Regions from separate parts of the Homo sapiens genome. Here region 1 is linked to region 2. The links come from fine-mapping of genetic effects on gene expression. A gene starts in region 2. The other region holds a variant in brackets. All regions are shown on one strand. Distances are between the middles of the regions. Region 1 overlaps LINC02450 (long intergenic non-protein coding RNA 2450). Region 2 holds the start of LINC02450 (long intergenic non-protein coding RNA 2450).

The links. PIP is the estimated chance that this variant, and not a neighbour inherited with it, causes the effect.
Region 1: its variant is the best candidate, but not a certain one, in a credible set for the expression of LINC02450 in tibial nerve (GTEx, PIP 0.70).

Annotation. Positions count from the first base shown.
Region 1 is chr12:42,715,068-42,717,885 of GRCh38, reverse strand. It overlaps LINC02450 (long intergenic non-protein coding RNA 2450), which reads right to left. Exons shown (of 4, transcript NR_135028.1): 4 at 767-1,395. Among named protein-coding and RNA genes, the nearest start is that of LINC02450, 24 kb to the right of the region's middle. The variant G/T (reference allele first, on the strand shown) is at 1,231.
Region 2 is chr12:42,690,762-42,693,579 of GRCh38, reverse strand. It overlaps LINC02450 (long intergenic non-protein coding RNA 2450), which reads right to left and starts at 1,364. Exons shown (of 4, transcript NR_135028.1): 1 at 1,304-1,364.

The DNA of each region.
Region 1 (2,818 bases), 24 kb before region 2:
AATGGAGACTTCCAGGCCAGCAGGAGGTGATCCTACTCTTTTTGGTCATCTAACACAGATCTGACAAGCCCAATAGAGCTTTCCGTGATCATGGAAATGTTCTACATCTACACCGTCCAATATGGTTGCCACCCGCCATATGTGGATGGCACAAATCTAACCCCAACCATATCCCCAGCCTTTTTTGACCATTCTCTTCATTACTAACAGGAGTATCATTCCTTGTCTACTAAAGAAAATGTATGTCGACTTAAAAAGCACAGAATAGACTACGTAAAACAGACTAGAAAACCAAGGCAGTGGGCACCTTTGCACACAAATTGAAATCTACATTTCCAGATGATGATTAGAGGTGATAATTACAAATGGACACACATTATCATAAAGCTTGAGCTTAACAAAGTTCTAGACTAGATTATGAAGCTGATCCTGACACCTACTAAGGAATGCTCTCCAGAAGTCAGCATTGGCTCACTAAGAAAATGTCCCAGGACCTCTCTAGGGACCAATTTACAATCACTCAGTAAATGTTCTCTGCTAATGTTGAGAGTACAGTTTCTCCCCAACCATGAACACCTATCCCAGAAACAGCCTGGAGTACAGGGAGTCATAAGAGAGGAAGGTGACCTGCACCTGGGGAACTACTACTGGTAGAACAACATAAAAATGGGTTAGGAATAATTGAGTCACAAACACCAGATGGAAGAACTTCCTTTCTCATCACTGCATACATGGGACACCAGAGAGAGAAAGGAGAAAACAGAACTAGAGATTTCAAATGCTTTATTGAAAGAGAGAAAAACATCATTTTCCTCCTTTCCCAGTGTTTGTTTTTGACCCAGCAGTGGCCACTGCAGCACTGCATCCAGGAGGCTCACCATGCTAGATACTGGATCTAAGGAGTGCTTTTTAGCAGACAGAGAGGTAAAAGAGAAAACAAGGGTTAGAATTTGAGATCTCCTACCAATGAGCCACACAGGAAAAAGCAAGGTTTTCTTTTCTAATTCTTTAAGAAAACACATATTTTTCCTGTCTCTGGGGACCCATGGCTGTCTGGGGATGGTGTGTGTGTTGCCTCATCTGCCTTTCTATGTGGTGTCTCCCTGTGCAAAGCTCTGGTGATGGCTCGCTTGCTGGGGTTAACGCAATGTCTCCACCACTGACCCCAGGCAGACACAGCTTCATGAGTCAGTAAAGGCTAGCCTTCAGAGGCTATTAAGTCCCAGAGAG[G/T]GGAAGCCGAGAAACATGTCTCCTCTGCTTGATGGCAGTGTCATGTGCAGGATGTTTTCCTGGCTCCAAAGTTAACCATGCAGCTAATAAGCTGGATTCCAGTGAAAGGGAAGTCTGCGAGTCACTGATAGAAAACACTCTCTTCGTTGGTCACAGTGTTACACCCTTGAGAGAAAAGAAAGCAAATATTCCTATAATCTGCCTGCTGTAAAAAAGGCAATGATTAAATTTTTAGTGGTGTTTGGCGGCCAGTTCCTTTGCGAAATTTTCTCTTACCATAGTTAAAATCACGGCTACCATTTATTGAGTCCACCACTATGGACTAGGAACCAGGATAAGCACTTCAGACACACATTCTCCCATGATCCTCAAACCATCTTATGTTCTGGATACCATTTAAGTGACGAGCAAACAGACTCAGTCAAGGTTCCAGCTGTGACCTTACACACACTGGCAAATGATGGAGCCAGGTCAGTCTGATCCCAGAACCTCCTAATCATGATGATACTATCAGATAAACAATGTCCAAGTAAATGCAACAATCACCCACCCCAATCTGAGCAGTAATATTTGTGCTGAATGTTCTGTAATAAAATCTAATAAAAATTATCCTGCATGGTCTTCCACTTCTGCATACCACATTTAAAAAAAAAAAAAAAAAAGCTACTGTCTGACTTCCAGGTTTGATTCTCAACTCTTATGGAGTTCCTCTCCCCAGCACCCAAATTAATGATATTATTTGTATTAGTCACTAGGCTAATCTAGTGCTCTATAGGAAGTCATAATTGCTCTCAGCTGTTAAACAAATCTCTAGGCTTATATCAAGATCATTGCCAATTAATCCTTTAAAAGTCATTAAAAATAGGAAAAGCTCAGCCAGGTGCCATGGCTCACGTCTCTAATCCCAGCACTTTGGGAGGCCAAGGCAGGTGGATCATGAGGTCAGGAGATCCAGACCATCCCGGCTAACACGGTGAAATCCCGTCTCTACTAAAAATGCAAAAAATTAGCTGGGCATGGTGGCAGGCACCTGTAGTCCCAGCTACTCAGGAGGCTGAGGCAGGAGAATGACGCGAACCCAGGAGGCAGAGCTTGCAGTGAGATCGCACCACTGCACTCCAGCCTGAGTGACAGAGTGAGACTCTGTCTCAAAAAAAAAAAAAAAAAAAAAGGGGGAAAGTTCCAAAAGACCAAAGACAGGAAAATATTGAAACTGTGATAATGAAATTTCAGATCAATTTTGTGGTATCTAGTGGACAAGATGGAGAAATAACATATTAAATAACTGACATTAAATGCTTGACACTATGATAAACCTTCACTATAATTTATCTTAGCCCTCACTTCAAGGTAGATATTCCTCCACTTTACAGATGATGATAGTGAGGTTCAGAGAAGTTATTATACATAACTTTTCCAATGTTGCCCTACTAAGTGAAGAGCTTCAAAATTGGTGCTATGGACTGAACATTTGTGTCTCCCCAAAATTTGCATTTTGAAGCCTGAATCTCCAATGTTAGGGTCTTTGGAGATGAGGCCTTCAGGAAACAATTAGGCCATGAGGGTTGAGGTGTCATGATGAAATTAG
Region 2 (2,818 bases):
ACAGAAAAATAGTAACTCCCAGGCTGTAATCTCCTTTTTAAAATGGGCCATTAATGATTTACAAGGGTGGTTTTTGTTTTTTGTTTTATATTTTTTTTAAAAGGAAGAGAAAACCTTTCATGAGTAGTCTTCCAGGCTGGCTTTTTCCAAGAACTAATATGAAAAAGGTATAAAATATGGTGAATAAGAAAAGCCCAAGCCCAACCTCTCCTCTTGGCATTCTGGTCCCTTTAAAATCTGTTCTTTACTTGCTTTTTCTATCACTTCTTTCCCACCACCCCCTATCCTTCCTTCTTCAGCTCAAGAGAATTCTTCTCCAAATCCTTTCTGGACCAATGTGTGAGTCATTCTCTTCTGCTTCTCCATTTATGAGACCGCTACTCCTCCTCCAAGGTCCAAATCAAACACTGTCCTTGGCTGAAACATCCTCTAATCCACCCAGGGGTTGATAATCACTCTAACCTCACCTAACAAATATAATACAACACTTATTTCATTCTGGTTTTTAAGTGAAATCAGGCTTATTAGGAAAGTAATAAAGAATGGCCACTCCATAGGCAGAGCAGCCTCTGGTTGAATTTTAAGTGGTCATTCTTTACACATCTGCATCCCTAAATGAGTTGCAAATTGCAAACTCCCTGAGGAAGGAAGCCCTGTATTGTTCCATGGTTATATCCTTTCACAATGCATAGAATAGCTTAAAGGAAGCTCTCAATTTTACTAAAAATAGCTGATATTTATTGATCACATACTACTTATCAGTCTTAGTTAAGCATTTAAAGCACTATTTCAATTAATTTTCACAAGAGCCATATGTATAAATATCATCTTTCACACTTTATAGAGGAGGAAATGAGATCACAGCATTTAAGGAGCTTTCCCGTCATGCAGTTAGAGACACTAGGATTTGAACCTGAGTATTTGGATTCCACAGCCTAAACCCCTACTCTCTACTTTCCACTTGATAGTTTAAATGAATTAATTTAATTTAAAGAAATTCAAGAATAGCATAGATTATTCATTAAAAATGAAGTTGTAGAATGGGCGGAAGAAGTAGTTCTGTTACCGGTAGAGGGTCTTGACTCCAAGTTGGCCAGGTTCTTGGCATTTTGAACAAAGAATTGGACAAAACACACAGCAAAGCAAGGAAAGAATGATACAACAAAAGCAGAGACTTATTGAAAGTGAAAGTACACTCCACAGTGTGGGAGCCGGCAGCGGCAGCAGCTCAAGGGCCTGGATATAGAATCTTCTCAGGTCCAAATACCCCCTAGAGATTTCCCATTGGCCACTTTGTGTTCACCTCATGTAAATGAAGCTGTGGCCCTCAGAGACTAAGGTGAAGTTACAAAGTTGAACGTCTATGCAAACAAAGACTTTGCTGGCGATCAGTCTGATTGGTTGCTATCTGCAACCAATCAGAGGCTGACGTTACAAAGTTACACTCCTATGCAAAAAGCAACCAATCAGAAGTACTTTCAATTTCCCATCTGCCATGCAGAAAACGTGGGGGTTTGCAAAGGGAGTAGCCCCTGGTCCTTTTGTTACTTAGATGTGCAAAGTTAGGGTTTTCCATTCAATTTAGTTCTAGGAAGTCAGTGTGAAATGGCCTTAGGTTCCCTGACTCCAGACCCTATTCTCCTGCCTCTCTTCCATTTGCTTATGTATTATTTTTGTTGTCTAAAACATAAATGAGGAGTCTCTGGAATTTCATCTTTCATAAGCCAACACCTCGATTTTCTTAAAACAGATTTTTTTTCTTATACATTAGTCAAAGTAAATTCATCTTCCCTTATATCATGACACCACCAGGAGTATTAGCAAAGCATAATAGCAATTGTCTTACTCAGATGTACAATCATAGAACATAAAAGATAAAACATTCTTCCTTTTAAATTCCTTATAACTCTCAAGTGATAAATAAGGGAGTAAATTTGGATCAAAAGAAGGGTTCAAGCTATATCTATACAGCCAAATCACTAAGTCATACGTCCAACAGGCTAATTATTATGTATTTTTTAAATATTTTACCATTCATATTGGCCAAATCAATGTAATTGATTCATAAATGCCAGCAATCCCTGTGTTGGGAATGATTTTTCCATTTATCTACTGATGCGCAAAGTCCTAGAACAAGAGATAAATTAAGAAACATTCAACTTTCTTGTCTCTCCAATCCCTTCTCAACATTGTTGCTGGCTTTCTGAGACACAACCTTAAGTGAAAAGAAGTGAACTTCGACCCATACCTTTCACCTTATCCATAAATTAACTCAAAATGGATCACAGACCTAAATGAAAAACCTAAACTATACACAGATTTCCAAAAGAAAATTTAGAAGAAAATATTTACAGCCTTGCTTAGGTGAAGATTTTAGAAAATATACCCAGAGGTTGTAGTGAGCCTGGGTGACAGAGTGAGACTCCATCTCAAAAAACAAACAAAAAAGAAAATATACCAAAAGCTGGACCACAAAAGAAAAAAGTATAAACTGGACTTATCAACATGAAAAGCTTCTACAAGACACTGTTGAGAGAATAAAAAGATAAACCACAGACTGGAAGGAAATATTTGTAAAATACATATAAGGGACTTGTATGCTGAATATATAAAGAACTCTCAAAACTCAACAATAAGGAAAAATAAAACTGGGCAATAGATTTCAACACACACTTCACCAACAAAGATATATGGATGGCAAAACACACACACACACACACACACACACACACACACACACACACGAAACGTTTTCAATATCACTAGTCATTTGGCCAAAAAAAAAAAAAAAGTAAAACCACAGTGAGATTATCATTTC